Homo sapiens: one gene and its partners. The protein of the gene in region 5 purifies or fractionates together with the protein of the main gene of each other region. This does not show direct contact. Each region holds a gene or a part of one and is shown on either strand. Other genes may lie near its edges. The genes, in order: ROBO1, NKTR, CCDC85C, TGS1, SRGAP3, SH3GL2 and RAPH1.

Region 1 (3,500 bases), about 71 Mb from region 5:
TTCAAGGGAACTTGTTTCACTCATTTTTGTGTCTGCTAATCAAACTTGTCATAATAATAAAAAGTCAGAGTCATTAAAAGCTCCAAGTACTCTGCACAGCAGCACCTCAACTCTAAATGCCATGTTCACATGTGATTACTGAAATTCTGCTCTTGGCAAATCTGCCTTTCTGATGCAGGACTCTTGTACTTCAGTAAGAGTGACTCATGTGATCTAATTTACTATACTCTAAGCAAATCTTTCTCTGAAGCACGGTAATCTGGGAAGACACAAAATAAGATCTAAAAAGCTTTGCAAATGGCTCCTCCCCCAAATGCTAAATTAAGTGCCATATTGATCTGACTGAATTGGAGAGCAATTGTTGTGATAAACTCCCTGTTCCTAGTTACACCTGGAATAGATTCTGTTAATATGTGGACTCAAGTGCCCCACCCCCATATATTCTATTGTAGTAATTCTGATGGGGGATCCTGGGACTGGTGTTTTAAGGGCTACTTTTTTCACTTTTAAGATTTATTTGGTTCAATGGACAAAGTTTGAGACATACTGCTTCACAGAATTTAGAGTCTGTCTTAGTATCTTTAGGGTGCTACAACAAAGTGCTATGGAATAGGTGCCTTGTAAACAATAGAAATGCTTTTCTCATAGTTTTAGAGGCTGGAAAGTCCAATATCAAGGCGCTGGAAGATTTGGTGTCTGGGGAGGACCCACTTTCTGCTTCATAGACAGCCATCTTCTTATGTTTAGTCGGGGGGGAAGGGGCAAGAGAGCTTACTCAGACCTCTTTTATAAGGGCACTAATTCCATTCCTGAGGGCTCTGCTTTCATGGTCTAGTCATCTCCCAAAGGCCCCACTTCCTAATTTTAATTTCAGCATATGAATTTGGAGAAGACACAGCATTCAGAACATAGCGCAGTCTCATAGTAGAAACGAATAAATGATTACAATGGAATTTCAGAGGCATTATTAAATGATCAGAAAGGGAGGAATACTTAAACCTATTTTCTTAACATGAAGGTCTTCACAGAAGAAGTGACACTTGTTTTGTGTTTTCAAACATCGCTAAAAAAATAAGAAAGTGAGAACCATTTGGGGCAGAATTCTGGACAAACACACACACACACACACACACAAAAGCCGAGAGGAATGAAACATCCTGAGTGTTTAAGAAAATGCAAGTAAATTTTCATAGTAATTGATAATTCTGAAGACTGAAAAGAAGAATTCATGCTTCATATCACAGAGTACCTTCAATGACTAAGGAGTTTAGAAATTGTCATTTTTGCCCTGACAGATAGCTCGCCAAACTTGTTGCACATGACTTCAAATGGCTGATCCCAGGAAGTGGAAGTAAGAATTGGAGGGCAGGCCCATGAGGAGAAGAGGTGAAGTTCAAGAGAAAAATCATAATTTTTTTTTTCTTTTCACTACATGATCATAGGGAATGAGGCAGAGGGACATAGCAAAGAGGAATGTGTCTTGATGCATGATGTGCTATTTACCACTTGGAAATCTAAAGAGATAAGCAAGTGTGGCAGGGAGGATGATACCTGTGGCTTTGAATGCTTTCCTTTAGGACAGTTTCCTTTAAAATGCTTGTGATGCATTTCTAGGTGGAGATGAAATTAGATCTTTGGAAATATAGGTATGACAATCAGGAGCAATGCATGGACAAGAAATATAAAATTTGAATGTCATTACTGAAACTCCGGAAATGTATCACAACATCTGGGTGACTATCGAGTGCGAAAAAATAATAAGGGCAAAATGCAGAAATATAATGAAGAAATAGAAATTTATAGTTGATGGATAATGTATGTAAAAGTATATAAGGTAAAGGCTCAAAAAATGTTAGCTTACTCCTCTTAATCCCTGAATAAAGACCAAATTAGACAGCAGATGTTATTGGAAATTACTTGGAATTTCAGAGGTAAGGAACAGCAATAGGGTTGGAATAATAAGAAAAATTTTATGGTGGAGAAGGAACATGAACCACCCTAGACAAATGGATAGGGTTTGGCCAAATGAAGAAGATAATTTTGCAGATTAGAGAAGACACGTGTGCAGAAATGGAAAGGCAGAAAAGAACAACTGGCTGAAACTGACGTACTGGATCCTTAGCAGGCATCCTGGCTACATATGCACAAATTTCAAAGAAAATGGAAAGCCCCTCAGTTTTCCCCAAGTGCTCTGACCCCCAGAGATGATACAGGCAGGGTGGCAGATAGGGGTGGGGTATATTTTCTGAAAAAGTTATTTACTGTTTATGAGATCCTTGGAAAGTAACTGTAAAAGTTTGCTCTTGGAGAAATGCAGATAATGCTTTGGACATGAAAAAGATATCAAGGAGATTAAAAAATTATGAGTACTAAAATAAAATTCAAGGAATAATCAAACTCCTTGTTTAAATATGGGGGAAAATAGGTAGGTCCAGTTAACTGAAGAGAATGGCTCCCTTAAAAGCAGCAGTATGACATACTAGAAAAGCATGTACTCTGTCATGAGAAAGAACTTGTTTTTAATCCTGGCTCTGCCCCTTTTTGGCTGAATAGTCATGTCTATTTTCCTTAAACTCTCTGAGCTTCATTCTCTTCATGTGTTGTAGACATCTAATAAAGCCTACTTTGAAAGGGTTATGTGGGGATTAAGTGAAATATCTATTGCAGGTACGGTGACTAACACTGTTTCTACAGTTTTATCCTATGTAGTTTTGAATTAGTCAGTTAGCCTTCTAGGACCTCAATTTCCTATAGAATTAGGAGAATTGGCACTAATATATTTTAGGTACAAATATGAATACATTAACAGTAACATTGCTCACTTCAACAGCAAGTTTAGAGAGATAAATGATTATGTGACCAGGTCATAATCTAGCCTATTGTATGCTATCATGTTTTTGTCTGTGGTCTCAGAAAGAGGAAAATCAGTTGAGTTTAGGTGGCAAGAAGGAGCTCATTCTCCAGCAGATTGGTGGAAGCTCACCTCAAGATACATTTCAAATGGTGCATTGCACCTGCTCATTCATCAAGCTGCCAGGGGCTTACTTTACTGCCTTGCTTTTTTTCATTTAAAATTCACATCTTTGTGGTGTCTAGAGTTTCTCAGCTTTGTAATGAAAGTAATACATTAAATCTTGCTTAAATAAAAGTAGTTCCTAATGTATTAAGTATAGATGAAGGCCAAAAAGTGAGATTTTATAGCTAAGCACAACACTACTTTCCAAATAGTGCACACAAGTGTATAGCTTCCTTTTCATCTCTGGTCAATGTTATTTTGTATTTGAATTGATTCTACTATGTTATAAGATAAAAGAAAATTATACAGAACAATGCAGTTCTCTTTGGGGAGATATTAGGGTATTTGTTCTTTATTTTGTGCAGTATAGGGTAAGAGAAAGTTGGCATTAAACCTTTGGGACTCCCTAGGCAGCTGTTGAGTCTCTCCCCTCCTCCCATGCTCAGCTCAGTGCTATATCACTGGAAATCACTAACCTTCATAG
Region 2 (3,500 bases), about 33 Mb from region 5:
GGATCCCTCACATGGACAGCCCTGATCTGCTGATTCTGAGTGCTGTGTGACAGAAAAGCAAAACTTTTATATTGTTGTAAGTACTGTTATTTAACCTTTATGTTAGAACCAATCTTATCATTTAGCCTAACTAATACAAGGTATCTTCATATGAGGGTAAACTACAGTCACCAAAAGTGATTACGTATCAGAAGGCTGAGGTGGGAGGATCATTTGAGACCAGGAATTTGAGGCTACACCACACTATGATCATGCCTGTGAATAGCCACAGTACTCCAGCATGAGCAACGCAGTGATACTCTGTCTCTAAAAAAAAAGCCAAACGAAATTTTTTTTTTTAGGGATAGTGTCTCACTATGTTGCCCAGGCTGGTAGGTTTCTAACTCCTATGCTCAAGCAATCCTCCTGCCTTGGCCTCCCAAAGTGCTGGGATTACAAGCATGAGCCACTGTGCCTGGCCAAGAAAAAAATAAAAATTTAAAATAAAAGTAAAGACAAAATATTAAAAAATGTTAAAAAGTGATTACATAAAGATTAATTGGTGTTTAATAAAATAAACATTGCTGAATTAAGAATCAGGCTTCAATTCTTTGTACAAGTATACATACATAGGGAGTGAAAGCAAGAATTCAGGATTTCACTTTACAGCACTGTCTCTCGGACTTTAAGATACAATCTCTGGGAACAAAAGGGACCAAAATCAAAGGTCTACCTGCACAATACCTAAATATGAAAGCCCCTTAACTTGACTTAGTGTCCATACTCCTGCACATGCAATACTTAAAGCAACTTAAAAAAAAAATCAGATACTGTGCTATATATACTTAACAAATACAGACTGCTCTACAAGAACAGTGATAGAATTTTAAGAAACACTGCATTATCGAAAATCACATATAAAAATAACTATTTCCATATAAAAATGGGAACTGGGGGGGACAAGGGAGTTTCCAGTTGCAGTAAAAATATTTTTTTCTTTAGGAGTATCAATAATAAATTTTAGCTATAAGAGGACGTTATAAAATCTAAACATCATTGAGGAAACCCTACAACTGACCAAACCTCATTTCTGCCTCCATTCCCAGCACTGTCATTAGCACAGTGGCCTTCAAATCAGTTAGGACAAACAAGAATGACTCAGAGCAGCAGAGCTATCCAACTGTTCTCTCCCACGCCACTCTTCCCCACCTGCTTATCCGATTGTTATACCAAACAGTAGTGTGCCTAATTAAAATTGTGCTCCTTAATCCACCCTATTAGAGTAAGTTCATGTTACTCTAATACAATCTATAAGATGGCATTATTTAATTACTCTTCTCAACAATCTTGTTATGTAAGCACTATTACACTGGAGTCCTATTATTAGGTTAATAATATAACAGGTTAATGAGCATATACAGTGCAAGTCATTTAAATTTCAGGCCATTGCATCTAGTCACTCTACTCATGAGCTTATGACCCAGGGTGACCTTGAGAGCGGAGATGCATTTCTCCTATTCCCTCAGAACAAACCAGATCCCATATACCTCACTCGAAGTATGAGCTATTTTGAATGTGAGTCTAAAGTTTAGTTTAATTTTGAATATAAGCAAATTTTCCTGTCCTGTTAGCTTTGGAACCAAATTAAGAACAAAACTGTATAGTAGTTCCATTTCACAAAGAGGTTGTTAAACGGCTTGACCAAGGACACAAGTAGTACTCAAACATTTGCCTGAATCCTTTGTCGCCTCTTAAGACTAATTTCTTGGTATCACTTCTAAATACTTTACAATGTTTGCTAAAAACACATTTTCCAGTCTGTTTTTATGAATCTTAAGCAGTAAAGCAAATCTAAACATAACTAATTATATTAAATGTATACAGTTAAACATACTGACTAAAAGACATTGTCAGAGTGGGACAAGACCCATCTATTTGCTATCCAGAAGAAATCCACTTTAAATATTATACAGAAAGGTTAAAAGTAAAAGGATTGAAAATGATATACCATGTAAACACTAATAAAACGGAAGTAACTATATTCATATCTGAGGCAAAGGAAACTTCAGAGCCAGGAAAGTTACTAGGAATATAAGGTGTCATTACATAATAATAAAAGAGTTCACTAAGAAGACAACAATCCTAAATATGTATGTACCCACCTAAGAGCCTCAAAATGAATGATGCAAAAACTAAGAGAACTTAAAAGAGAAATACGGCCGGGCATGATGGCTCATGCCTGTAATCCCAGCACTTCGAGAGGCCGAGGCAGGTGGATTGCTTGGGCCCAGGAGTTCAAGACCAGCCTGGGCATCATGAAGAAACCCTGTCTCTACTAAAAATACAAAAAATTAGCCAGGCATGGTAGCTCACACCTGTAGTCCCAGCTACTGGGGAGGCAGAGGCACGAGAATCACTTGAACCAGGAAGGCAGAGGGTGTGGTGAGCCAAGATCATGCCACTGCACTCCAGCATTCCAGCCTGGGCGACAGAGCAAGACTCAGTCTCAAAAAAAAAAAAAAAAAAAAAAAAAAAAAAAAAAAAAAAGGAGAGAAATAGATAAATCCACAATTACAGTTGTTATAGTTGCAGACTTCAATACTCTTCTCCTGGTAATCAATAAACAAGTAGAAAATCAGCAAAGATATAAAAGAATTGACCAACACTAATAGCCAACTGGATTTGACATTTATAGAACACACTACACAAAAATGTACATTCAAGTGCAGAATGTACATTCAAGTGCACAAAGAACGGAAATCATGTGTGTTCTCTAGCCATAATGGAATTAAATTAAAAGTCATTTGAGACTGTCTCAAAAAAAAAAGGTATCAAATCAACAATCTATGCTTCAACATTAAGAAACTAGAAAAAGAACAAAATAAAAATTGAAGCAAGCATTAGAAAGAAAGAGAACAATGAAATTGAAAACAAAAATAGAAACAAAATTCAATCAGATCAAAATCTGGTTCTCTGAAAATGTATAATGAATAAACCTCTCGTCAGACTGACAAAGGAAAAAGACAAAAGGAAGAATTATCAATATCAGGAATGAAAAGAGACACCACTACAGACCCCACAGATATTAAAAGAGGCTGTGACAAACAACTCTAAGCACATAAACTTGACAACTTAGATAAAATGCACCAATTTCTTTAATAAAAACCACAGGCTAGGCACCGTGGCTCACACCTGTAATTCTAGCACTTTCGGAGGCCGAGGTGGGCGGATCACTTGAGGTCAGGAGTTCAGACCAGCCTGGCCAACATGATGAAACCCTGTCTCTAATAAAAATACAAAAAAATTAGCCAGGGGTGGTGGCACATGCCTGTAATCCCAGCTACTAGGGAGGCTGAGGCAGGAGAATCGCTTGAACCTGGGAGGCGGAGGTTGCACTGAGCCGAGATGGCACCACTGCACTCCAGCCTGGGTGAAAAAGTGAGACTTCGCCTCAAAAAAAAAAAAAAAAAAAAAGTTGTGTAAAATCCACTATTTAGTTAATATACTCAAAAAGTGCTAGT
Region 3 (3,500 bases), on a different chromosome or scaffold from region 5:
ATTCAGAGTGTGTGCTGGCTTAGAATGCATTCTCCATTGGAGAAGATTTTGTAACTCTCTTACTGTTGCAGAGTCCTGGCCAAGAAAATCAGGTGGTTTGGAATTTTCGCCCTTAAGTGGAGCTAGGGGTACATCTCTCAGGAGAGGTGACCCAGAGAGGCATGGGTGGCTCTGATGGGGTGGGGGGAGGGGTGTCACTCATGGTTGGGGGAGGGTGAGTGCTGGGCCTAGGGGTGGGGGCTGTAGCCTCTTCCTCTTTTTGGTACCTGGTGGGTGGGGAGGGGGCTTTCCTTGATCTGACCTCCACCTGCGGGCCGTGAGTGCCTCTAGTTAACCTAGGCAGGGTCAGCCAGGGTTAATGCCGTGGTCAGGGCATGGCAGTCCCATTTGATGGTTCAGGGCTGTGCCCAAGGCCCCCGTGCTGAGACCCCTTTGTGATGCTCGCCAGGGTTATCTAAAACCCATCACACTTTGGGGGCCCTGCAGGAAGGTTGGTTCCCACTTCTCTGTCTCTCCTTTATGTCCCTCCCTGACCTTGGACCACACCCAGGTCCTCCCTGAGGCCCAGGAAGCAGCTCCCAGCCTCCAGTGCCCGGCTGCCCTGGCTGACCGGCGTCTGGTGGGCGTGGGCTATTTAATGAGGGGAGTCAGTGCCGGATCCCTGCTTTCCTGTCTTGGCTCCGTGGGAGCTGGTAATAGAGCATCCACTTGCCTCCTCACCCCCGCAGGACACGGCTGTTTGCTGGCCCTTGAGCCAAGCTCTTGAGACCTCCCAGCCCCAGTGGGGGGCCTGGCCAGGGCTCTGATGGGGCTGGGAGAACACAAGAGCTGGACCTCAGTGAGGCTGGGGCTTGTGAGAAGTGCGGGGCCAGGTCCAGCTTTTGAGGGAGGCAAGCAGGGTGTGTGTGGGATCTTTCACAGCCAGGCCGAGGGGCTGGTGAGTGGAACTGGGACCCCAGACATGGCTGCAGCCTGTCCTGCCTTCCTTGCCCCTGCCCCAGCCCAGCCCCAGCCTGGGCCTCCCCTGCCCCTGCAGTTTGTTTGGGTAACTCAACAGCCTGCTGATTTATGGGACATTCCGCAGGGTTTTATCTGCCCAGCCACTTTCTCTCAGTTCCTTTGAAGTAGAAAAGGGTGTTTCGGCCAGAAACACCCAAAACCCTTTAGTGATGCAGAAAGAAAAGAAAGGCCGGGCCTTCTGCTGGGCCGGGCCAGGGGAGGGGCACTGTGGGACTGACCAGAGAAGTTTATGGGACCTGTGGATTCATTCTGGCTCCTGGTCCCAGCCCCAGCCCCAAATTCTGGGGGTCGGTGGTGTTTGCTTTGCTCTTAAGCAAAGGGTCTAAGGCCAAGCCTTCCTCCCTCCCTCCTGTGTGCAGGAGTTAGTTACAACCCCACAGCTTGCACGAGTTCTCAGGGATTCAGAGGCAGCACCCAGGACCTGCTTTAGGAGCTCCCTGCCCATCCGATGGGGGAGGCAGCCTGGGCGGAGCATCCCGAGAGAGCCCCGAACCCGTGGGAGGTGGGAGGCCTCGCCTGTGGATGTGGCCCCATCTGCTGCCGATGGCTGGCCCAGGCCCTGTGAGTGGTGCCGTCTGTGCAGGGACCCAAGGGCAGGAAGTTGGAGCGGAGGAGCCAGGGTGAGTCACGGGGTGGGAGAGACACTCTCTCCTCACTCGCTCTCACTGGCTCTTCTTCATTCATTCATTCATTCTGTTTATTCAGCCATCCAACAAATGTTTACAAAGCCCACGTTGGAGAGTGGATCGCTGACATTTGAGCTGGGGAGAGTGAAGATCGATTGATCCCGGCTCGGGGGATGGATAAGCGGTGTGGAGGGGAGGGTGGAGGGGTCCTCCGGGGCCGTGCCTTTGAGCAGCCCCTGCTGCCGTGAGGAGCCATGCCCAGGGCCCTTGTCCTCCTCAGCCTGGCCCTCCGTCTAACCCCTCTCCTTCTCTCCCCTGCAGCAGGCAGGCTCCGGAGAGTTCCGCACGCTGCGGAAAGGCTTCTCGCCCTACCACTCGGAGTCCCAGCTTGCGTCCCTGCCGCCCTCCTACCAGGACTCCCTGCAGAACGTGAGTGTGCACCCCAAAAAAGCCCACATGTTCTGGATGAGGGGCTGAGGCTCAGGCGGGCCAGTGACCTGCCCGGAGGGGCACAAGGATCTGGGTGCCTGAGTTCAGCCCCAGCCCTAGGCCCTGTGTCCGTGTCCCATCCAGTGTGGCAGTTAGAGGCGGAGCCCCAGGTGGGTTGACACTGCTGGAGGTGCGGGGCAGTCTCCAGAGGCCACGTGCGCAGGGCTGCCCGTGCCTAGCCCCTGTCCCTCTGAGCAGCTCATTAGCCTGTGCCACTCCTTGGCCACGGTGGGGAGAGGGTACCCGGCCAGCCCTGGAGCTTGGGGTTCAGGTTTGTGGATTCTGCACTGAAATGACCAGCCTGATGCCTCCAGGGGTATCCTCTGCCCCTACCTGGCTGACCTGGCCTGGAGGGAATGGGGTGGGCGGCTTGGAGCCAGCTCCCGGGAAGTGGAACCTAGCTCAGGACTGTGCCCTGTAGATAGATATGATGGCAGTGGGGAGCCACAGGAGTCCAGGCCCACTTGCCCTCCTAGGACTGGGGGCCTTGCCTTGTGGGACTTCACGCCTCCAGGAGCCTTGGTGGGTGTGTAGCGGATGCTTGGGAAGCATCGGCTGTTCTCGTTGCGGCACCTGCAGAGCCGTGTATGGAGGTGCTTCTTGGGCAGCACGTGCGCTTGTAGCAGCTGTGCCCCTTCCTGCTCTCTTCCCTGCACCCCTTGCCCACAAGGCTGACCCCAGGCCCCCGGTGCAGAGCTTGCTGGGCCTCAGTGCTGGCTGCTGGCTCTGCGATTTCTCTTTTGCTGCCCTTCCACCTTCTCCAGGAATGCAGCTGTAGAGCCTGTGCAGGCAGCAAAGCCCGCCAATGGCCGATATTCCAAGCATTTATCCGGAGTCCCGTGGCTGAACGAGGCTCTAACTGTTTCATGGTGGAGGGCTCTGAAAAGCCAAGGGATGCCCTCACGGGGCTGGCTCCTTAGTCTTCATGCCCCGTGCCTCTCATTCATTCAGATCGTGGGAGGGAGTAATAGCAGCTAGCAGTTACTCAGTGCTATGTCCTGAAGTCTTCCGCGTGGCCTGCAGGTTGGGAAGTGCTGTGCAAGCACAGCTCTCACATGTACCAGGCCCGCCAGATGCTGTCTCCCTGCAGGCCTCTGGAGAGCACACCTCAGGCATGGGCCGAGCCTCAAGGCCTGAGAGTGCGGATAAAATGCTGTCAGAGTTCAGGAATGTTCAGGAAGGCTTCCTGGAGGAGGCAGCCTTGGGAAAGGGTTTGTTCCTCTTGCCTCCTTTTTTCCTCTAGACTGCTCTGTGCATGAAGGGGTGTCCCCTACTTTGGAGAGGAGGAAGTGAGGCTCACAGGGGTGGGGTGGATGGCCAGGGCCCCATGGTGAGTGCGTCCTGGTGCCTGTGTGTGCCTAGAGG
Region 4 (3,500 bases), on a different chromosome or scaffold from region 5:
AAGGCTCAGAATCTTACCAGTAGATCCTGCCTCTTCTTACATGATTACTGGTGTTGTGAACATAACAATCATTTAATAACCACTGGCTTATGCATACAAATGCTTACTCTAACACGCTCTGGTGAGAGGGGTCTCATGTAACTTACCTCCTCTTCAGTTTGCTTGGCTTATGCTCAGGTGGGTCTTCCTCACTTTCATCTCCATCAGTACCACTGGCATGTGGTCTGTCTTTGCTTGTGTTTGCTCCTGAAGACTTCTGTGAATCTAAAGAGGCAGAAATATTGCAGTAGCTTTTCCCCCTTGGTTTGACAACTTTTCTGCTATTTGCAAAGCCAATGAAAATATTTTAGCACCTTTTCTACAATGAACTGTACATGTGCATCAAAGTGCCAGCTCACATCTACCTGTTTGTGTCTACATGCAGAGTCTGAGCATTTTAAAAATCTTAACTATAAGGTTTGTTAAATTAAATTTAGCCTAAAACTGTCCATGTATACATTTTAAGCTCAGCTTAAAGGTTTTTCCACATGTAGTGAACTGTAACCTAACTGGTGGTATAAAAAGACTGTAACCTACTCTTGTATCAAGCACAGTTTTGGCTAATCACAGGCAGCCAACTATTCAAATGGTGTTCAAGTAAGGCAAAAGCTGGGCTGTAACCAATCCAGCTGTTTGTGTACCTCACTTCCACCTTCTGTACGTTGTACATCATTTTTCTTTTTCTGTCCATAAATGTTATCCCAATCATGTGGCAGCCCTGGAGTTGCTCTGAACCTATTCTGGCTCTTGGGGCTGCCTGATTCGAGAATCGTTCTTTGCTCAGTTAAACTCTATTAAATTTAATTTGTATAAAGTTTTTTAACAGGTTTAAAAATGTTCATGATCTAACTACTTAAAAAAAAACACAACAAACTAAAACTACTTCTTCATAGCTGCCCAAATCTATACAAATTAACCCACAAAGCTGCCTTTGTGATAGCTGTTAGCAGTCACATTCTTATGGAATTTTAATTGAAATGACCGTAAAGGGGGCATAATCACATTGATTAAGAAGAATTTCTCTTCATTTGCCTTTAATATAGTATGAAAGTAACATTAATAATGAGAGTAACAAAGACAATACTATCTTTAAGAAGAGTTCTTTAACTTATGGTGACAAAAACTGAGGCACAAATCTGTCTTTGTTCTCTATTTTGTCAGACTGGAAGAAAGTGGGTGGCTGAGACCAGGAGGAAAAAGATGTCTGCAGGGTAGACAGTGGGAAGCTTTGACTCTTTCAGAAAAGCACCAACCACAAAGAGTAGAAAACATACTTACATAGAAGCATAACCTATACCTTAAATTTTGAACTCAAGGGAGGATCTAAAACAAATCAAAATCTAAAACCCTCAAATTCATCCTGATGGCAGACAAACTGGAGTTATTACAGAAATGGACAATCTATAAACGTAAGTAAGGGAACAAGCAACAGAAGGCAGAGACTGTGAGACTTACTGTGTCTGCCAAAGAAAAAAGCAGGCAGATGAGGGAGGAGAACCAAAGAGGGTAAATGAGACTGTAAGTCAGAGGCCAAAACAATGCCCAATATGTATATTATAAACTTTATGGTCAAAATATGTACAGAAAGGTATCAGGAGAGTATAGAAGAGTATCAGAATACTAATATAAAATCTTCAGATAAAAAAGGATGGCTGTGCATGGTGGCTCACGCCTATGCACTTTGGGAGGCTGAGGCGGGAGGATCACTTGAGGTCAGGAGTTTGAAACCAGCCTGGCCAACACGGTGAAACCCCGTATCTACTAAAAATAAAAAAATAAAAAAATTAACTGTATGTGGTGGCACACACCTGTAGTCCCAGCTACTCGGGAGGCTGAGGCTGGAGAATTGCTTGAGCCCCGGAGGCGGACCTTGCAGTGAGCTGAGATAGTGCCACTGCACTCCAGCTTGGGTGACAGAGTGAGACTCCATCTCAAAAAAAAAAAAAAAAAAAGGATGAAAATGTATCACCAAAATAGAAAGGAATGAGAATATTATACTGAGGTAGGCTCCACTTATAAGAATCTAAGAATATAGAGAAAAAAAGCAAGTTGACAGAGCTCTTTAGAAACTGTCAGCTGGATGAAGTATTATCAGCAATCTGAGATAAGCAAAGCAAATCTGATTGTTAAGTAAAAGGTCAAAACCATTTGTTTCACAAAAGAGTAAGGCTGAGAAGAAAGTTCCTCTACACTAGATGTCTTCAGCATGTAACATCAGGATGCCAAAACTTCAGGATATGCAGATGTCACAGAAATTTCCTCCTCTCCCATTTTCCTGGTGCTGTTAATTGGCAGAAGCCTCTCCCCAGCAAGAGCACTGATAGGGTTTGGATGTTTGTCCCCTCTAAACCTCATGTTTAAATGTGATCCCTAATGTTGGAAGTGGGGTCTGGTGGGAAGTGTTTGGGTCATGGGGCAGATCCTTCATGAATGGCTTGGTGCCTCCCCATGGTAATGAGTTACTGCAATATCTGATTGCTAACAAGAGCCTGGGACCTCCCCCCTCTCTCTTGCTCTCTCTCTTGCCATGTGGCATGCCTATGCCCCTTTCACCTTCTGCCATAATTGGAAGGTTCCTGAGGCCCTCACCAGGAGTTGATGCTGAGACTATGCTTCCTGTACAGCCTGCAAAACTGTGAGCCAAAATAAACCTCTTTTCTTTAAACATTCCTCAGTCTCAGGTATTCCTTTACAGCAATGCAAAGTAAACATTCTCATCGCACCGTACTCAGATTAACTCCTTTCAAAACACTTCTCATTGGCATTCTCTAGTCCTGAGTGGCACCAGTTTGCACAATTAGCTTTTTTTGGATCAGTTATTCAGGAATCAATCAAGTTCCTTATCCTGGATATTTTATTGATGAGAATCCTGAAATTAACCATTCCAGTTATAAATTAATATTGTGCCCCATTGAGATCTTTTTTTCACAGCAAGACTTCACTTGTCCTAAGTGAATTCCACATATGACTCATAAGACATTTGCCTAATGTCAAATGTACATTCTCAATTGCTTTCTAACATGCCTCTTATAAATTCATTTGCTGTGGAAAACTAAAAGTTCCAAGCTCACTTTATATTAGATTTCTCAAGAGATTCCACATTTTCCTTCATTAGCCACCAAAGTACAAGAGAAGGAATGATACTTTTGAGAACTGCATGCAAATATTCTTATTAATAGAAAAGGATAACTTGTGATATGAAAACAGGATGGATTAAATCATTTCATTATTATATGAAATGTACTTGGTATTATTTAACTCTACAATAAAGGATTAGTAGTTATTTTGCTAAATGAATTCATTTTGCTAACCATTACATGGCAGAATAAATCTTGGTTAATCTTACCCTCAGCTGGTGGGTCTGTGTTTGTATTCCCCGATGAGTTGCTTTCCTCATTGGTTCCTCCATTACGTGGTTCACTTTGGCCGGAAGCAGGGCACTCTCTTTTGCTACTAACTTC
Region 5 (3,500 bases):
GGAGATATGAGGGGACCACTAATTCTGCCTAGAAGAGTTTGGAAGGCATCGTGGAAGAAGGCATCATTTGAGTAGACATTGAAGGGCGATCAGAAGTATTTGAGGCAAATAGGAGTGGGAGGCAGGGGGTAAGGAGAGTAAAGGCACAAATGGGAAAGACCTGGAGGAGGGGAAGGGTATGGAGGATTTAGAGAAAAGGGATTGGTCGCCAGGCATGGTGGCTCACGTCTGTAATCCCAGCATTTTGGGAGGCCGAGGCAGGCGGATCACTTGAGGTCAGGAGTTCAAGACCAGTCTGGCCAACATGGTGAAACCCCGTCTCTACTGAAAATACAAAAATTAGCCAGGCATAGTGGCGCATGCCTGTAATCTCAGCTACTTGGGAGGCTGAGGCACAAGAATTGCTTGAACTCGGGAGGCAGAGGTTATAGTGAGCCAAGATTGTGCCACTGCACTCCAGCCTGGGTGACAGAGAGAGACTCTGTCTTAAAAAAAAAAAAAAAGAGAGAGAGAGAGAGAGAAAAGGGACTGGTTTTTTGCGTTTATAAGAGCACAAGCCTATCACAGAGAAAATGACTGAAGATGAAATAGGAAAATTGGCTGAGGCCCCTCACCAAGGCTTCGTGCGGACTTCAACTTGTAGACCAGATTTTGCAAACTGGTGGCCCAACAGGCTAAAACTGTTCTACCGACATGTTTGTTCAGGAAGCATAGTGTTTTTAAATTTTTAAGCCACCATTTAAAAATCAAGAGATTTTGCTTAAAAATCCAGATTCCCTTGAAACACTGAAGGAACTGACCTTTCTGGGCTCACATTCCTGCCTAGGAAGAGCAGGCTGGAGCAGCATCTGCCTTCTCTAGAGGAACTCCCCACTTGGCCACAGCCCCCACTACTCCCCTCTGTTTGCCCAGCCCAGCCTGCTTTCTTCATTTTATCCTGTTGAAACCAGCGAGCATTCCTAAGGTGATCTTCTAATCACTGCATGATATACGCTCTAAGATTCAGTTCGTTCTGGCTCTCGAAGTTTTTGTGTTTGGGATTTTTTTATTTCTTTCTCTCATTTTTATCACCATATTCCAAGAAAACTCTTAGAAAGCAAAGAATGTATCATATACTTTGTGTCTCTCACAACACTCAGCACAAGACTAGGTACAATGTAGATAATCAACTTTTGTTGAATTAGTGCAGAAATGAATGAATAAATACATGCCCCTCTGTGGTCATCCTCCATACCTGCCCTTCTTCCTCAAACCTCTAGACTTTTGCTACTAAGAAGATGGATGAATATGTAACAAAAAAAAAAGCACCAAAGTCAATCATTGCATTTCTATTTCAATTTTCTATCAGGTTGCAATGGAAATAGGAACTCTGAATAGATGCAGAACTAACCATCATGTCTGGCAGCAAGATGAATTAGAGCCCCAGGATACTGAGAAAGCCTGCAGATAAGATCACCAAATATCATCAGTGATCTTTGAGGGAATTGTAGAGAATAGGATAGGTGCCAAAAAGCTGGAGCCTGGCAAATGTTCTGATTTTCAAAAGGGGAAAAATGTTATGGTTTGCCAGTTCCAGACTAGATAATATGATATCACTCCCGGCAAGGTTCTTAAACAGATTTGTTAAGGACACTTATGAGCACCTAGGACAGGAAGTAATGTCCATTTGGCACCAGCATGGGGTCACCAAGAACAAGTCATGTTAAATGCATTTCATTTTCTTCTCTCTGACAAGGCTCCTAGGCTAGTGTATTGGAGAAACACAGCAGACTTAATATACATGGTGCACTGAGGGGGTGAGCAGCACCAAAGGCTAATTCAATCCTTGGGCTATGTTAATAGTAGTATTGCAGACAGCAGAAAGGAGGTGATAGTTGTTTTCTGTCTTTGGCCACATCTAGAGAACCACATTTAGAACTCAGTGCCACTCTTGAAATAGGATACTGATAATATAATCTTTTGGAGGTCCTTTTGGCAAAATCTCTTTAAAAACATAAAGCTCTCATCCAGATTTCTGGCATCTGTTGAAAAATTGAAAAATCTGTCTGGGCCTACATTCCTAAACAGCAATAATTGGTTGAACCTAAGTAGTGACTGCCCATTTAGACAGAACATGTACTCTGAAGTCCGTCACAATCACCACCACCACCCTTCTACTGCCTGCACTGAGGTGGTAGGCCAGCTGCCACAAATTGTTTCACGTGGCCAACTTTATCCATTTATTCTATCTGCCAAGCACCCAATGACACTGAGGTTTGCAACCCAGGATGCAGTAGAGACAGAGGAGAGTGGAGATGGTAAGTGGTAGCGAACCATCCTATTATATGAGGATAATCATTGTCAGGGGTTATATTCCCAGGCTCCACACACCCAGTGGGCAGTCCAAGGGAAGACACATCTGTCTTATTTTGTGAAGTCCAAAGGGAAAGGAACTATAGAACCAATAAGTAGATGAGAGACATATTCAATGCAACATAAGAAAAAATGCTTACAAGGGTCAGGCACGGTGGCTCACACCTATGATCGTAGCACTTTGGGAGGCCAAGGCGGGTGGATCACTTGAAGCTAGGAGTTTGAGATCAGCCTGGCCAACATGGTGAAACCCCGTCTCTACTAAAAATACAAAAATTGGCCACATGTGGTGGCACGTGCCTGTAATGCCAGCTACTCGGGAGGCTGAGGGAGGAGAATCTCTTGAACCCAAGAGGCGGAGATTGCAGTGAGTCAAGATGACATCACTACATTCCAGCCTGGACGACACAGAGAGACTCTGTCACAAAAGAAAAAAGAAAAAATGCTTACAAGAGCCAGAGCTGTCCAAAGATGATAGACTACGTGGGCTTGGGAGGTAGTGAGTTCCCCATCACTAGAAATGTGCAAGCATATGGTTTACTACTGCTTCATAATCAAAAGGCTTCAAGTATCTGATGAGGCAAGAGAAGGCATGAATCCTTCTATTTTACAATAGAAAAAATACTGTTCTAAAACATTCCTTTGTGTTAGGTCTATAAATTCTTGAAAAAGACATAAAAGGGAACAAGTCAACAAAGAACTCAGCACTGTTTTTAAAAATCAAAAGTTCCCTTCACAAAATTCACAAAGCACAAAATCTGTCTGACTAGGTGGACTTTTTGCATCCCACTGGCCAGATGATTCCCAGGGAGAAAGGTAATTGGCCTCGGGCACTGTTTTTGGTGACTGGTCAAATGTTCTTCAGAGGCATGCAACAAAGGCAACGGGATGAAAGTAAGAGGGTAAACAATGGAACTCCATCAAGAGGCTGCCAGTCCCCCCACAAAACTGCCATCTGCTGCTGACATCAATCCTTCAAGGGGCAGCTTCGGGCAAACAATGTGTCAGGGAACACAAGCCTGGGAGAAAATCGGCCTTGTGACCTTGGGCAAGTCATTTAACATTAACTGGGCCTCAGTTTCCTTGTCTCTGAAACTGAGTTCACACTAACCCTACTGTACATTGTGTGGGCCAAGAGTAAGTGATGT
Region 6 (3,500 bases), on a different chromosome or scaffold from region 5:
CTGATGGCCAGTGATGATGAGCATTTTTCCATATGTCTGTTGGCTGCATAAATGTCTTCTTTTGAGAAGTGTCTGTTCCTATCCTTTGCCCCCTTTTTGAAGACTTAAATGTTAGACCTAAGACCATAAAAACCCTAGAAGAAAACCTAGACAATACCATTCAGGACATAGGCATGGGCAAGGCATTAGACTTCATGTCTAAAACACCAAAAGCAATGGCAACAAAAGCCAAAATTGACAAATGGGATCTAATTAAACTAAAGAGCTTCTGCACAGCAAAAGAAACTACCATCAGAGTGAACAGGCAACCTACAGAATGGGAGAAAATTTTTGCAATCTATTCATCTGACAAAGAGCTAATATCCAGAATCTACAAAGAACTCAAACAAATTTACAAGAAAAAAACAACCCCATCAAAAAGTGGGCGAAGGATATGAACAGTTTCACTTTCTTTAAACAGCCTTCCCTAATGGCTCCTCACACCAATCCCAGGCAAGGTTAGTTGAAGACGGAGGCTCAGGAGCTTATAAGATGAGAAATTCTTGTAATTTAGGATGCATCAAAACTTACTTTCAAATAGTAATTGGAAATTTTGGACATTGAGAAAAATAACAGTTACATGTCATAAGTTCAAAGTTAAACTGTACTGTTCTCAAATGGCAATAAGCTCAATTCTGGGAGCTTATGGGAATTGCTAGTTATAATAAGTTACTTAAGTGGAAATCTTCTTTATGCTAAGTTAATCAGGCCTGTTACTAAGAGAATATGTACTTGGATATTACCAGCTTAGGTATATAAATAACTCTTCTGCCAAGTGCATAACAAGGCACATTCAGGGGTCTCATGGGGTTATGGCCCTCAGCTTGTCTCTGGCTGACACAGTGTAGTTTAGCAAAAGAGTCCTGGGCATTATTATGGAGGACCGAGGTGGAGAGAAGTTAGAAATTAGTCAGCCTCCTACTGGCAGATGACTTCAGAATGTGACTAATCATTGGACCATTCAGTTCTTCTGGTACTTTTTTAAAGAAAGCCTCTGATTAATGGCCTTGGGAACTACTTTTCTCCTCATAACACACTTAAAGAGCTCCTTTCCCTTCTCTAGGCCACAGGTGTGGACATTTAATAAATTAAAGCGTTAAACAGAATGCTCCCCTGGTCTCTTCCTCTTATGTCCATGAAGTCTATCAAGTAATTATCTGTAAGAATGCAGCCATGCCTGGTGCAGTGACTCATGCCTGTAATCCCAGCACTTTGGAAGGCCAAGGCGGATGGATCACTTGAGGCCAGGAGTTCGAGACCAGCCTGACCAACATGGCAAAACCCCGTCTCTACCAAAAAATACAAAAATTAGCCAGGCATGGTGGTGCGTGCCTCTAGTCCCAGCTTCTTGGGAAGCTGGGGAGGGAGAATCGCTTGAACCTGGGAGGAGGAGGTTGCGGTGAGCTGAGATTGCTCTACTGCACTCCAGCCTGGGGGAGAGAGTAAGACCCTGTCTCAAAAAAAAAAAAAAAAAAAAAAAAAAAAAAAAAATTGCAGTCAGTAGCAAGGGCCTAGGAATGGATTTGCCAAAAGTGGGTCCCTCTTTAGTATAATTCCTGATAATGAAATAAAAATGTAACTGTATTGAATAAAGTTGTTTTCAGAGGTGGTGGATTTCAAGCGAAGGTTATTTTATGTTGTAGTCAAAAGGGTTTAGGTAGAACTTGCTCTGTAATGATGCCTGGACTAGGTAACCAAAAGTGTTGAAGGAGTCTGCCTCAATGGGCACAAAGTCGGTAAACATCTGGGTGGGATGAGCTCTTTCTTTAGACAAGTCACAAGGGACACTGGAATAGTTTTTATTCCTACTTCTCTTTTAAGATGGAGTCCTGCCCTGGGGACCAAATGTAATAATCTAATATTGGTATCCCCAGGGTCTCTGGGTCTTCCCTGAGACCACTGGCTTCAGCCAAGCTAGTGGTGTCTGTTTACACTACATGAGTGGTTGGGCTCCCTACACAGAGCTTAAAAGGGAAGGGGGTTCTGTAGCCAAAATGAGAAACTAGCTTTCACAGCCTTCCTTGCTCACCTCCCTGTGGGCCAGGTGGGATAGACACTGCAGGTACCAGTCTCTGTAGGGAAACCCGTGAAACTGAGGGCCTGTGGTTCAGCAGATCAGCATTGCAGAGCCTCCCTTCCAGAGAGGCCCAGGATGGAATAGTCTTGTGGATGAAGCTTCCACAGACTTTGAGAAGTTTCAAAATAAAAACAGAATATGGGATGGCAGGTACCTTCCTGCTGATGCTGTTTCACCGGCTACTGCCAGGTCCCCAGCCCCATCTTAGGGAGGGAACAAAGCATATTCCAGCTCTGACTTGGCCTCTCTTTCAGATTGGGAGATGCCTCTGTTGCCTGTCTTTTTAGGAAGAGCTTTTGCTTTCAAGAAGTATAGGATGGTCATTAAGAACACACACACTGGAACTAGAACTGGGGAAGTTTCTTAACCCCTCTGTATCTGTTTTCTCATATACATTACAGAGTTTGTGAGCATTGAGTGTGTAAAGATATTTATAGTCCTTAGAACAGTTTCTGACAAACAGAAGACAGCTTATGGTGATGATTGTTATAATTATTAAGGACAGAGATGGGGGAACCTTAGAAATTGGTCAGCCCCTTAACAGCAGATGACATCAGGATATCAAACAGCCATTGGAAAATTTAATTCCTATGGCACTCTTTTTTAGAAACCTTGGCTTTTTGAATGATTTTCCTTCTCATCATAACTACAGGATATTTAGACACATTTGTCATCTAATTCCTTAATTCCCATCACATAGGCAGCAGGAGATCTACATTTGTACTTCTATCACACATGTACCATGGAGTTTCAGCATATTTGTTCCATACACACCTTTGATCCATTTCCCTGGCATAAGACATTCTATGACTTGAGTACATAGTGGTTGTTTGGAATTTTGCTAATACTAGGACCTTCACATATGGCTTCACAAGTTGTGTACTGCACAACTCCAGGGGGCTACTGAGCATTTTTAAGCTAATCACTACCTGGTACACACTCAATCTTAAAGATCTTTGAAATTTGAATCAATCAAAAGGATATTTATACAAGATTTATATGTAGACAGGCACATTTGAAATTGCATCCTTCTAAAGATAATTTTATATCATTATAACTTCACAAGAAAAAATTTGTTTTCCTCTGTTGATCCTAGTAATAGCAAACACACACAGTAATATGACTGCCATGGAATGAAAAATTATTAAGTATTGAAAAACTGAACTGAAAGATAAAATCTTTTAATGTGTGGATTATGGAAAAGGAGGAGGCTTACTTTATGCAAGGCTGATATTATATACCGGTATATATTATATACCGGTATATATTGGTATATACTGATATTATACTGGTATATACTGATATTATATACTGGTATATATTATATACCACTAGGTACAGCAGGTTATGGAAAAGTTTCTCATAGTTGAAGGGGGAGCCTTTT
Region 7 (4,145 bases), on a different chromosome or scaffold from region 5:
TTAAAATACAAAAGGGCAGTTATGTTTCAAAAGTACAGATATCTCAAGTGTGAAAGGCAGCCAGTATCTGTATTGTATGGTTCTAAATACCAATTTGAAACAGATTGTGTACCAGTTTGGAACAGATTGTACAAAAAAGACTGAAACCACTTGAAAGTCCTCAAGAATATCAGGAAGTAAGAATGTAATTAACCAAACCAGGATTTGGCCCCAGGACAGAGAAATGAACACTCTCATTCTTAGAGAGGGAGCTAGGATTTCAGGAATGTACAGTCAATGCTTTGTGAAAATTTAAATAAATTCTTAGCAAGCAGATGGGAAGACATGAAAAAGCAATGTTCATTGCAACCAATTTCAGGTCACACTCCCAATTTCTCAATTGTTTTAATGCTGTCAACAAACTTGCTTTGCATGTAGCCAAGCAAACATAACTTAGTTCCATTTGTTCCTTTCTTTGATCAACTTTAGGTGAAGGTCAAAATAAGGACATACTTAAAATCTAAAAGTCTGCCGAAGTCAAGCCTGCATCTAAAGAGGCAGCAGCTGAGCTTAGCGATAAGGAAAAATGCCGACACCTTACTACTACACAATTCCGATGGGGTGGGGGGACAGAAATTAAGGAGGCAGGATTAACAGATTTCGAAGTTTAAAAAGTAAAGGTCATCGAAATGTCCCGTTCCTAAGTTTCCCAATACATTCCATGAAACTGCAGAGACTTTTTGGCCAAAATGGGATTTCCTAAAGAAGGGCCTCACAGATCTCAACGACAATGGTCCTGTAAGTGACCGAGCCAACCCCGGATGCGTTTCTGGAGTCTCTGAATACACGGACAGCGTATAAAGGTGGATGCGTACAGCTCCCTGACAGAACTGCTGGAGGCTGCTGTGCCTCCCAGGGCGCTAGGACAGAGGCTGCTGGGCCGGCTTCCTATGAAAGGCGAGCAGGGGGTGGGGCAGCACTGGGATTTTCCTCCCCACTCATTCATTCTCTGATTCACTCGTTCCTGTAGGCGGCTCACAGGGACTTGCGGAGGAAAGGCGAGGCACGAGCGGAGCCGCGGTTGAGTGCGGCCGGGCGCGGCCGGGCGCCTGAAGGGAGGGCGGAGGGCCGGCGCGGGGCGCGGGCTAGGGAAGGGCGGCGGGCGCGGCGGCCTGCGCCGGAAGTGAGTGGTTGGCGGCGGGCGGGGGCGGCGCGCGGTCCCGCGCGAGTCGGCCCTACAGTCGGCAGTCCGGCCCTCAACCCCGCCTTCTGCGTCTCGGCTGGACGCGAGCACACTCGGCTCCGCCGCCGCCGCCGCCGCCGCGGGGCGCTGCGGCCGCCCCGCCCCCGCTCCCGCCGCCGCCCGCCAGTCAGTCAGTCAGTCAGTCAGTCAGTCAGTCAGTCAGTCACTGAGCGCGCGGCGCGGGAGCTGCTGGCAGTCGCTGCGTCTCTGGCGAGGGAGCGCCGCGCCTGGGGAGGAGGCGGAGGCAGCGGCTGGAGGAGCGCGAGCGGCGGTTTCCTTGCCCGGGGCCGCGGGAAGGCCGACCGACTGCCGCGGTGAGTGGTTAGCCTCGCCCTCGGGGCCAGGGGGTAGGGAGCCGGCTGGGCGCGGGGCCGTGAGGCGCTCCTGCCGCTCCCGCCTCCATTTTCCCGGCGCCCGGCCCCGCCATCCGGGTGCGGTACGGTCGGCGGCAGCCTGGGGCGGGGTCGTTGCCAGGTTGGGGATCGGGCCGGGGCTGGCTGGACCGCTCCCGGCTGGTGGATGGAGGTCGGTGGGGCCTGGACTGCACCCTGCGCCCCTGGGGACCGCGACGGAGGGAGACAATGAGATAAGGGGCCGCCTGGGAGGGTGCGGTTAGGCTTCTCCGACCCAGCACCGGGGGCTGGTGGCCCGGGACCGCAGGGAGGAAAGGACTTTCCCCCGCCCAGCTGCAGAAACCAGCTACTGGATGTCGGGTTGCTTGGGTTTCGATGCCCCCATCTTTCATAGATGAGTTCAGTGCAGAGATTTTGAAAGGCGGGGCTCCTTCTGTGTCTTCTTTCTAATTAAACAGGATAAGTAATTGCTTCATTGCTTTTTAACCGCGTCTCCTCTTGCGGTCTGTATTATACATTCCCGCCGGAAATCCAAACTGCAATTCATGGGGGGGGGGGGGGGGTGGACGGAGGGAGGGGGCAGTGTGATAGTATTAGGATGCCTTCGTGTTAAGACAGGTTGAAAGATGTGGTTTTCTTAAGGCAGTGACTTAGGGTGTCCCCACTGTGTGAGCTGGAAACCGCATAAACCTTATTGCTTACAAGCTCGAAGACATGGTTTAATATGAAATAAGAGCCTTGAGGGAGGGTGTAAGTGTTACATGTGTCTTGCGTGTGTGCATTTCTTAAATTCTTTGGGAAGATCCGTTGGGGAAATCCGGGAGAATGGAAAAGTTCTTCACTCAATCTTCCAATAAGGGTTGATGTTGTCTGCAGCATTTCTCAGGGAAATGTGGAGAGCTGCTTATGTAGGTAAAGTCCACCGTTAAGGAACAGTAAAGGTAACGGGTTAGGGATGAGGCGTGATCGGATTATTAAAGAGTCAGTCCATGGGGATATTAAATTCAGCAAACATTTATGGAATACCTACTCTGTCAGTTAGGCTGGGTGACACCAGGTGAACAAGCATGGGGTGGTGGAAAGAGCTCTTCGGAGTGGGGGAAACCGTACGCCCTGGAATTGGCTTGCAATGTGAGTTGGATAAGCTATTGAACTCTGCAGTACGTTCCCTATCAGTAAAATGGGAATAACACCACCTGTTTACCTCCCCAGATGTTTTTCATGTAGATTAAATGAGATAATGTATGCAAAATGCGTAGCACCTTGCCTGGCATAGAGGTGTTTAACAGCACCTTAAATTCCTTTCCTCCTCGGGGTGGTTTTTTTGGGGGTGCGGTGCGGGGGGTTAGTGAATGTAGGTAAGTGTAATACAGTGAACTATATAGTAAAATGTTGAGGTATAGAATAGGAGAGCGAAGAAGAGAGATTAATTCTAAATTGAGGGAGGAATGCATGGAAGCCTCGGCATTTAAGTGAAACCTTTAAGGATGAGTAGGATTTCAGCAGATTCAGATGGGGAGGAGGACATTTCACATGGTGGTGCTATCCTTTGAGAGCCGAATTGAGGGGGAGGACCTTTGGGGGAGGGGCAAAATAGAGACGCTCAATAGCTTTTAACTCTTGTTGAGTCTGACCTTCAAAGATTGTCTCCGTTATTTTGCTTTTTGTGTGGTGAATTTCCCAGAAACCAGATGCAGCCCTACTCAAGTAAGTACAAAAAGCTTAATTCATGATTTTTTGGGTTAGACATTTTGTATAATTTAGATTGCTGTCTCCTGTTTGAATGTAATAAAGAATTATTTGTAGATGTTGCCTTATGATAAACGTTAGCTTTATTTGGTAGAAGCAGCAGCTTATTTTTCAGACTCAGAGGTCTCACTAAGATTATAGAGTATGTGACTGGGTGAAAGGAGTGGAGTAGTGGGCACTATTGGGTGTGTTTTCACAAATATTTAACTCTTTATTTTCCAAAGAGGTGTTTTTAACCATTGTCTTTGAGGATGATTATGTCTTTTGGTTTTGCTGCCCTTTGGTGCTCACCCCATAAATACTTACTAGATTGGCATCGTGGATAACTGTCACACTATTCACAGATTCTTGGTTACACATTGTAGAATCTCATGGCTTTGGTTGCCTTGGTTTGGAAGTAATTGAATGTCAACATTAGTATTGTTAATCCCAAACACTTAATTTTAGGAAAATTAATATTAGTGAAGCAAGATGTGACCTCAGGCAGATAACTTATCTTGGACTCTTAATTCCTTTACCTATAAAATGAGAAGTTTGGATTAGATCACTGCTTCTTAAACTGTTTCACTGAACTTGAGAATTTCAGAGATTCTGCAGATGTTTGACTTTAATCTCAATAAAAATGTATTTTAAACTTATAATAATAAAAAGTGGCCACTGTATGACGTACACTGTTTTAAACACTTTATATGTGATAATTTATTTAATTCTCGCCATAACCCTATGAAATAGAGTCTATTATTTGAGAAAATAGGCACAGACAATAAGTTGCCCAAAGACTGCAGAGCTATAGTGGCAGAGCTGGATTTGAAACCGGGCAG

What was found.
Region 1: the proteins of SRGAP3 (region 5) and ROBO1 purify together in Homo sapiens (affinity purification with mass spectrometry; one large-scale study listed by BioGRID and IntAct). This does not show direct contact.
Region 2: the proteins of SRGAP3 (region 5) and NKTR purify together in Homo sapiens (affinity purification with mass spectrometry; one large-scale study listed by BioGRID and IntAct). This does not show direct contact.
Region 3: the proteins of SRGAP3 (region 5) and CCDC85C purify together in Homo sapiens (affinity purification with mass spectrometry; 3 studies listed by BioGRID and IntAct, with this or other methods). This does not show direct contact.
Region 4: the proteins of SRGAP3 (region 5) and TGS1 purify together in Homo sapiens (affinity purification with mass spectrometry; one large-scale study listed by BioGRID and IntAct). This does not show direct contact.
Region 6: the proteins of SRGAP3 (region 5) and SH3GL2 purify together in Homo sapiens (co-immunoprecipitation; one study listed by IntAct). This does not show direct contact.
Region 7: the proteins of SRGAP3 (region 5) and RAPH1 purify together in Homo sapiens (affinity purification with mass spectrometry; one large-scale study listed by BioGRID and IntAct). This does not show direct contact.

What each region holds. Positions count from the first base shown.
Region 1 is NC_000003.12:79,761,499-79,764,998, forward strand, and holds part of ROBO1 (roundabout homolog 1 isoform a precursor), read right to left. Parts: intron 1-3,500. UniProt on the Homo sapiens protein: Receptor for SLIT1 and SLIT2 that mediates cellular responses to molecular guidance cues in cellular migration, including axonal navigation at the ventral midline of the neural tube and projection of axons to different regions during neuronal development.
Region 2 is NC_000003.12:42,603,686-42,607,185, reverse strand, and holds part of NKTR (NK-tumor recognition protein), read right to left. Parts: intron 1-3,500. UniProt on the Homo sapiens protein: PPIase that catalyzes the cis-trans isomerization of proline imidic peptide bonds in oligopeptides and may therefore assist protein folding. Component of a putative tumor-recognition complex involved in the function of NK cells.
Region 3 is NC_000014.9:99,520,708-99,524,207, reverse strand, and holds part of CCDC85C (coiled-coil domain-containing protein 85C), read left to right. Parts: intron 1-1,967; coding exon 1,968-2,075; intron 2,076-3,500. UniProt on the Homo sapiens protein: May play a role in cell-cell adhesion and epithelium development through its interaction with proteins of the beta-catenin family. May play an important role in cortical development, especially in the maintenance of radial glia.
Region 4 is NC_000008.11:55,786,946-55,790,445, reverse strand, and holds part of TGS1 (trimethylguanosine synthase), read right to left. Parts: coding exon 3,386-3,500; intron 265-3,385; coding exon 147-264; intron 1-146. UniProt on the Homo sapiens protein: Catalyzes the 2 serial methylation steps for the conversion of the 7-monomethylguanosine (m(7)G) caps of snRNAs and snoRNAs to a 2,2,7-trimethylguanosine (m(2,2,7)G) cap structure.
Region 5 is NC_000003.12:9,243,147-9,246,646, forward strand, and holds part of SRGAP3 (SLIT-ROBO Rho GTPase-activating protein 3), read right to left. Parts: intron 1-3,500. UniProt on the Homo sapiens protein: GTPase-activating protein for RAC1 and perhaps Cdc42, but not for RhoA small GTPase. May attenuate RAC1 signaling in neurons.
Region 6 is NC_000009.12:17,757,066-17,760,565, forward strand, and holds part of SH3GL2 (endophilin-A1), read left to right. Parts: intron 1-3,500. UniProt on the Homo sapiens protein: Implicated in synaptic vesicle endocytosis. May recruit other proteins to membranes with high curvature. Required for BDNF-dependent dendrite outgrowth.
Region 7 is NC_000002.12:203,532,502-203,536,646, reverse strand, and holds the start of RAPH1 (ras-associated and pleckstrin homology domains-containing protein 1), read left to right. Parts: upstream 1-1,345; 5' UTR 1,346-1,536; intron 1,537-2,415; exon of another isoform or gene 2,416-2,438; coding exon of another isoform or gene 2,439-2,487; exon of another isoform or gene 2,488-3,259; coding exon of another isoform or gene 3,260-3,282; intron 3,283-4,145. UniProt on the Homo sapiens protein: Mediator of localized membrane signals. Implicated in the regulation of lamellipodial dynamics. Negatively regulates cell adhesion.